2 linked regions of the Homo sapiens genome follow. The protein of the gene in region 2 purifies or fractionates together with the protein of the main gene of each other region. This does not show direct contact. Each region holds a gene or a part of one and is shown on either strand. Other genes may lie near its edges. The genes, in order: NDUFB6 and PON1.

What was found.
Region 1: the proteins of PON1 (region 2) and NDUFB6 purify together in Homo sapiens (affinity purification with mass spectrometry; one large-scale study listed by BioGRID and IntAct). This does not show direct contact.

What each region holds. Positions count from the first base shown.
Region 1 is NC_000009.12:32,566,614-32,570,430, reverse strand, and holds part of NDUFB6 (NADH dehydrogenase [ubiquinone] 1 beta subcomplex subunit 6), read left to right. Parts: intron 1-3,570; exon of another isoform or gene 3,571-3,817.
Region 2 is NC_000007.14:95,321,540-95,326,150, reverse strand, and holds the start of PON1 (serum paraoxonase/arylesterase 1), read left to right. Parts: upstream 1-1,618; 5' UTR 1,619-1,675; coding exon 1,676-1,749; intron 1,750-4,611. UniProt on the Homo sapiens protein: Hydrolyzes the toxic metabolites of a variety of organophosphorus insecticides. Capable of hydrolyzing a broad spectrum of organophosphate substrates and lactones, and a number of aromatic carboxylic acid esters.

The sequences.
Region 1 (3,817 bases), on a different chromosome or scaffold from region 2:
CTGGTGCAGGGTGTTGGATCCCAGGCAGAATGAGAAGGGCATGCATTTTGGGAAGTGGCGTGGCAGAGGGAGCAGTGGTGACTGCGTAGCCTGAAGTGTTGGAGCACAAAAGAGTGAGGAGGGCATTCGTATACCAAGAGAGGGGTGTTAGATCCTCAGTGGGTTGCAGGGGAGGAGGGTGAGCACATCTGTTTGGGGAGCAACAGTGGCAACAGCCTAGTATAGGATATTGGTACCTGAGCAGAGGGAGGAGGACATCTGGAAGAAGGATGGTATGAGGCAGTGAGGCAAGTGGTAACTCAGAGCAAGATGTCAGAACCTGAATGAGGTGAGGCAGGTATTAATGCTGGGATGTGGTTGTGGTGACAGGAGATGGGTTATATATAGGGAGATTGGCCAAATACAGGCATACCTCAGAGATATTTCAGAATTGGTTGTAGAACAATGCAGTTCCAAAAGTATTCTTTGGTTCTAGACCACCAAAACGAGTTACACAAATTTTTTGGCTTCCTAGTGCATATAAAAGTTATGTTTACACTGTGCTGTGGTATAAGTGTGTAATAGCAGTGTAAAAGAACGATGTATATGCTTTAATTTAAAAATACTTTATTGCTGGGCCATGTGTGGTGGCTCCCACCTGTAGCCCTAGCACTTTGAGAGGCCAAGGTAGGAAGATTGCTTGAGGCCAGAAGTTCGACCGGCTTGGGCAACATAGTGAGACTCCATGTTTCCAAAAAAAAAGAAAAAAAAATAGCTGGATGTAGTGGTCCACACCTATAATCCCAGCTACTCAAGAGGCTGAGATGGGAGGATTGCTTGAGCCCAGGATTTCGAGGCTGCAATAAACTGTGATTGTGCCACTGCACTCTGGCCTAGGTGCCAGGTTGATATGCTGCCTTAAAAAGAAAAAACAGGCCGGGCACGGTGGCTCATGCCTGTAATCCCAGCACTTTGGGAGGTTGAGGCGGGTGGATCACGAGGTCAAGAGATCGAGACCATCCTGGCCAACATGGTGAAACCCCACCTCTACTAAAAATAAAAAAAATGAGCTGGGCATGGTGGCGGGCGCCTGTAGTCCCAGCTATTCGGGAGGTTGAGGCAGAAGAATCACTTGAACCTGGGAGGTGGAGGTTGCAGTGAGCTGAGATCGTGCCACTGCACTCCAGCCTGGCGACAGAGTGAGACTCCGTCTCAAAAAAGAAAAAGAAAAAAACAAAAACTTCATTGCTAAAAAATGCTAATGATCATTTGAGCCTTAGTGACTATGTATGATCTTTTTGCTAATGGAAGGTCTTGCTTCCATGTTGATAACTGCTGACTGATCAGGGTGATGGTTGTTGCAGGCTGGAGTGGCTGTGGCAATTTCTTAATATAAGATAGCAGGCGGGGCGCGGTGTCCCACGCCTGTAATCCTACCACTTTGGGAGGCCAAGGCAGGTGGATCACGAGGTCAGGAGTTCAAGACCACCCTGGCCAAGATGGTGAGACCCTGTCTCTACTAAAAATACAAAAATTAGCTGGGAGTAGTAGTGGGTGCCTGTAATCCCAGCTACTCGGGAGGCTGAGGCAGGAGAATCGCTTGAACCCGGGAGGCGGAGGTTGCAGTGAGCTGAGATTGCACCACTGCACTCCATCCTGGGCAACAGAGCAAGACTCCATCTCAAAAAAAAAAAAAAAAAAAATATATATATATATATATGCACACACACACACATATACATACACATATATATACATACGTATATACATATATAAGTATATGTACATATATACATATATATATATGTATATGAGACAACACTGAGGTTTGCCACATCGATTGACTTTTATTTTCACGAAAGATATCTCTGTAGCATGAGATGCTGTTTGATAGCATAGCATTTTACCCACAGTATAACTTTCAAAATTGGAGTCAGGCCTTTCAAACCATGCCGCTGCTTTATCAACTAAGATTATGTAATATTCGAAATTCTTTGTTGTCATTTCAACAATGTTCATAGCATCTTCACCAGGAGCAGATTCCATCTCAAGAAACCACTTTGTTTGCTCATCCAAAAGGAGCACCTTCTCATCTATCAAGCTTTATCATGTGATGGAGGCACTTCAGTCACATGGTCAGGCTCCACTTCTAATTCTAGTTCTTTTGCTATATCCACTACATCGAGTTCCTTCCTGCACCGAATTCCTGAACCCCTCAAAGTCATCCACGAGAGTTGAAATCAACTTCTTCCAAACTCTTGTTCATGTTGATACTTTGACCTCCTCCTGTTAATCACAAATCTTCTTAATGGCATATAGGATAGTAAATTCTTTCCCAGAAGATTTTCCATTTTCTTTGCCTAGATCCATCAGAGGAATCACTATCTTTTTTTTTTCTTTTTGAGACAAGGTCTTGCTGTGTCACTCAGGCTGGAGTGCGGTGGTGCCATCTCGACTCACTGCAACCTCCGCCTCCCAGGTTCAAGCAATTCTCCTGCCTCAGCCTACCAAGTAGCTTTTGATATGAAGTGAGAAACATGCAGCTCTTTCTTTTATTTGAACAGTTAGAGGTCATTGTAGTGTTATTAAATTGGCCTAATTTCAGTATTGTTGTGTCTCAGGGAATAGGACAGTCCAAGGAGAGGGAGAGAGGTGGGGAATGGCCAGTTGGTGGAACAGTCACAACACACAACATTTACTTATTAAATTCACTATCTTATATGGGTGTGATTTGTGTTGCCCCTAAAATTTGTAGTAGTAACATCAAAAATCACTGAGTGCAGATTACCATAACAAATATTAATATAACAATAGTGACAAAGTTTGAGGCCAGGCATGGTGGCTCACACCTGTAATCCCAGCACTTTGGGAGGCTGAGGTGGGCAAATCAGCTGAGGTGAGGAGTTCAAGATCAGCCTGGCCAACATGGTGAAACCCCATCTCTACTAAAATACAAAAATTAGCCGGGCTTGGTGCACGTCTGTAGTCCCAGCTACTGGGGAGGCTGAGGCAGGAGAATCCCTTGAACCTGGGAGAAGGAGGTTGCAGTGAGCCAAGATCGCACCACTGCCTGGGTGACAGAGCGAGACTCCATCTGAAAAAGTTTGAAATATTGGGAGAATTACCAAAATATGGCACAGAGACGTGAAGTGAACACATGCTGTTAGCAAAATGGCACTGAGTTTCTGGGATCGGTTCCCGGCCCATGCCAGTTTTGCAGAGCACACCTGGTGTAGAGCCCTGTGACTGGGGCCTGGACCAGCTTGAGCAGCTGGCCAGCGGGTGCCACTGCCTGCGGGGCCCAGAGGCGTTGAGTACATCTGCAGTGCTCCAGAAGCACAAGACTGTGAAGCTGCGGGCCCTGTGCAGCCCGAGGAAGTTTGGCATGGCGGGCAGGAGCTGCCGGGAGATGCTGCGCAAGGGCTACCTCTGCTTCTAGCTCCCTCGTACGAGGATGGCATGGAGCTGACCGAAGCGTCCTCGACGATGCCGAGCTGGTGCTGCTCACCTCACGCCAGGCCTGGCAGGGCTATGTGAGTGACATCGGGTGCTTCCTCAGTGCTTTTCGCCAGCCGCACGCGTGGCTCATCCAGGCCGCCCGGCAGCTACTGTGTGATGAGCAGGCCCCCACAGAGGCAGAGACTGCTGGCCGACCTCCTGTACAACGTCAGCCAGAACGTCGCAGCCGACACCCGGGCTGAGGACCCGCTGTGGTTTGAAGGCTTGGAGTCCCGATTTTGGAATAAGTCTGGCTATCTGAGATACAGCTGTGAAAGCCGGATCCGGAGTTACCTGAGAGAGGTGAGCTCCTGCTCCTCCATGGTGGGTGCAGAGGCTC
Region 2 (4,611 bases):
TGTTTATGAGCATAAGAAAATGATTGTTTGGTTTAGCAGCTAACCTTGTGAAATATCTCCAATCTTCCATTCTCACCTTAACCCATTCTAATATGGTTTGTGTTCTTTTGACTCGTGTAGAATTTGTTCTTATTAAACCACCTATTGTATCCATGTTATCTAATTCAGTAGTTACTTCTCTGCCATAAGCATACTCAACTCATAGCCACATTGGACACAGATCATCATTCCCCCTCTTTTCGAATACTCTTCTCTTTTGGATTCATTGGTTCTACTTCTTAGGTAGATTCTTCTGCTCCACCTGGTGTTAACCAGGGTGGCTTAGCCAGTGGTATTCAGTTGGTGGCCAGGCTGTGGTGGCTGGGCTTGTCTAATAGCCCACTTCATTCATTTCTGCTTCCTTGGTGCCGATGGTTAAGAGGTTGGCTTCAGCTGACCACTTTCCCTCTCCATATGTTCATGGCCTTTCATGTGAATGCTCCAGTGGAGTGGTCAGGTTTTTTACATAGTAGCTCAAGGCTTAAGAGCAAGTGTTCAGAAGGAGCAGAGAGAGAGGGCAGTAGTTACAATGTGAGGCCAAAGAAGCTTCCCCCCAGAAAGCTAAAGGTGATAAGTAAAGCATGTTGGTATTGGCTGGCAATATTCCACAAGAGATGAAAGGACAGATATTGCAGAAGAGAGAAGGTATAACTGGGACCAAAAGCCTTGAGAAGGAAAGAGACATGGAGCAAATCATTCACAGTAACAGCAGACAGCAGAGAAGAGAGACATGGTTGTACAGAGGCACCTCCTTTGGGTCTTTACTCAAATGCCCCATTATCAGTGAGAACTTCTCTGACTGCTATTCTTCAGCAGAGGGTATTCCTTATCCCCTTTCTTGCTTTATGTGTTTTCTCCATAACATATGTGCATATCCATAACACACACATGCATCACCTAGAGCATTATATATGCCACAGTGACATGTTTTGCTGATTTCTCAATTGACTCCCCCCATTGGAATGAACGTAAGCTTGAGGAAGACGTTTTGTCCTGTTCTGTAGCATCTAGAACAGCGCCTGGCACATAGTAGGTACTCAATAAATGCCAGCTGCATGAGGAAATGAATGAGCTGTGTGGGGGATGTACTTGAGTGAACTCTAAAGTCAGAGTGGTGTTGAGAGAAAAATGCTTGAAATCCAGATGTTGGAAGGTGACACAGAGTAGTAGCCTGGTGAGAACAGTTAGATCTTAGGGGTTCCTACTACAGCCCTCCCTTCCGCACCTTTTTGGCTGTCACCATGATCAAGCTACTGAATCTCTCTGAGACGCAAGGACCGGGATGGCACAAAGTGAGTGCTCACCAAAGCTTGACTGTCCTTTCCCATGGCAATTTACTTCAGCTTGTTTGATTTCCCCTCCCCGACTGGACTAGGCACCTATTCTCTGTCTTCTCTCTTTACAGTTGGAAGGAGCAAAATGGGACTTTTGGCTGAAAGTGCTGAGCTCCTGCGGTGGGGGCTGACCGCAAGCCACGCCTTCTGTGCACCTGGTCGGCCCAGCTAGCTGCCGACCCGGCGGGGAGGGGCGGGGCGGGCCAATCGGCGCTGCCCCAGCAGGGCTGCGGCTGCAGGCAGGCAGAGCCTCCTAGCCCGTCGGTGTCTGCGCCCATCGATCCCTTTGTCTATCCCCGACCATGGCGAAGCTGATTGCGCTCACCCTCTTGGGGATGGGACTGGCACTCTTCAGGAACCACCAGTCTTCTTACCAGTAAGTTGGGTTGTGGTGAGGGCTGCAGCCTTCGTCCTCCTCACTCCCTGCCAGCTCCACGAGCCCCCAGAAAGTTGGGTCCAGGCTGTTAACAGAACATTTACAAGCAGGTGCTAGATGCACACTCTGCGGGGGTTTCATAAATGTTTGTCCAGCCGTCATGTGTCACTTGAAAACAAACTCTTGCTCATGGCCTGAGACATGGGATAAGGAGGCAATTGCCAGGGGTGTGAGTGCCCAGGTTGTCAGCATACACGAATTAATTTTTCATGAAGATTTGTGTGCCCTGGCTACAGATTCACTTCTCAACCTGGAAAGAAACAAACTAACCTGGCTGGGGGTTCTCCTGATATTTTGTGTATTAGAGAAAGGAGCCCCTGTCGCTTCTGCGCCTTGACTGCCTGGCCATGGCAAACCTTCCAGGCTTGAAGATTCTCAAATTGAGGCTACTGAGGGCCACAGCAAAACTGCGTGTGGACCCGAGCAGGTGGAGCTAACGTGTGCTGTGATGGTTCGCTTCAGTGGGGGCAGGCGGGGAAGAGGGAACCCTGGAGCCAGCATCTGATGTCCTGGGGTTTAGCTCTGCCCCATGAGTATGCGATTTGGGCAAATCACTTTACATCTCTAACCTTAGCTGCTTCAGTAAACTGGAAATAGTAATACACACTGCCTGCGACAGAGTAGCTATTCAATAAATGTTAGTTCCCTGCTTCCCTTTAAAGTATTTAATAAAGGGTTAAGTGCTATACAAGGGGGGTGGGGATATTTTAAGAATGTATCAAAAGTTTCATAACTTTTAACAGGAGTTCAAAGTCTACAGATCATCCTAGTCTCTAAGGCTTAGTCAACAATGCCTTATTTACTTTAAAGTAAAACCTAATAAAAATTAAATATAAAAAAATTATATGAGCTTATGGACTAATTAGAAGCTTACATTCAGAATGGGTTTTTACTATTTATTGTGGATGTTTTTCTAATTTTTTTAAGTTACAGAGTGCAGAAAAAAAGTAAGAAGCAGTTGGTATTCTTGGCTTTTAAATCATGTAAAAATTACAGTTTGTGAGTTTTTATTAATCACAGTGCTGGTGGCTGCCAAAGGAGATTATAGGTATAGATAAAAATATATAGATAAAGGATGGGTTGCTGAGCCTCCTGGAGTGACCCAGACAGAGGAAGGAAGGGAAATTTTACCCACTGTTGGAAACCCCTAAAACCTAGCTACTCAACTGGGTCTGGGGACCAGATGCCTGAGCATCACCTAGGGGCTCCCTGTACAGGCAGAATCTCAAGCCCTACCCCACACTATTGAATCAGAACCAGCGTCATGGAACAAACTCCCTGGGGGATTAGAGATCATGAATCTGCCCCAGGGAGAGAAGGCAAGAGATGATATCATGAGGCCTGCATCAGGAGCAAGCCAAATCCCCAGGATAGATGCATCCTTTTTTCTTCAGACTTGGAGTGTATGTGTGTGCGGCTCACAGGAAGCTATATATGCCTGGGCTGGAGGGAACTTAAGGAAGCACACAAGGGATGCCTCAAGAGATTTCTGAGTTTCCCAGGTGGGAGCAGTACAGAGAAAAGAACTGAGAGAGTTCCCCTAGACCACGAGTCTCCCACCCACGAGTCTCCCACCTTTGTAGTCGGCTGTATGTGCCGCACAAGTCCAGGGAATGCCTTGGATGATGGTAGAAACAGCTCCCCTCCCCTACCCCAACTTGGGCTATGGAATGTTGCAGCATCTGTATGGCAACTTCCTTGTCCCTACATTGCTAATTGCAATACGTGAGTCCACTGAGTTTCCCTTCTCAGAAGGAAACCACAAAGCTAACGTTGGGCCTCTCGATGCATTTCTGCCATTCCATGCTTACTGTAGGCAACACACAGTTGTGGGAAGAGAGTAGTTGTGGATTCCTGATGACCTGGGTTAGATATCATTTCTGCAACTTTCAAGTTATTTTACCACTTTATTCCAGAAAAGTTCCAGCCAGTTTCTCCACCCGAAAATTAGGGGATAATAATACATATTACAGCATATATATATATATATACACACACACACACACACACATACATATATTTATATTTATATAAAACATATAAATAAAACTAAGTATATATATATATATAAAAATCAGGCATATAGCAGATGTCCTGTAAACGTTAGCTTTTATAGCTGTCATATGTGATCTCAAAAATATAGAGTGATACTTGAATATGTATTATAATCATACTTCATTGAAAGTCTGAGATAAGGACAAATAATCCTCCAACCCTCCAGTCTCCCCTATGAATGCAACCAACACCATCTTCTCAGTCTGATGTACTTGCCTAGTATCTCCACAAAACACTTCAGTGGACATCTGCAGAGTACCTTCTCTTTGCAAACGTTGTGTTTCTGCTGGAGGTTATAGGAATGAATAGGTTGCAGTATTCACTCACCAATTTTAAAGTCTACTGGGAGCAAAAGAACAAAAACTGACAGCTGTGAAACTGACAACTATGACAACTATGGTAAGAAAGTTGACAGATGTATATGTGAAGGTTCCTGAGGGTAAACTAAGGAGTTATTAATCCCAATGCAGAAGACTGGAGAAGCTACAAAGCATCATGAGTAGGGGTCTTTCCAGTGGGTAATGGGCTAAAGAGCATTCTAGGTGAAGGGAAAAGTGTGAGCAAATAAAAAGAGGTATGAAAGAAATACAGGGAAGAGTCCTTAGTATCATGACACTTGATTTCAAATCCCAACTCTACCCTCTTAAATAAGCAACCACATGCAATTTACTCAGCCTCTCAGTGCCTCCATTTCCTTACCTACAAAACAGGGTAAATATTCATCTTTTTCTCAAAGGTGGCTAAAAA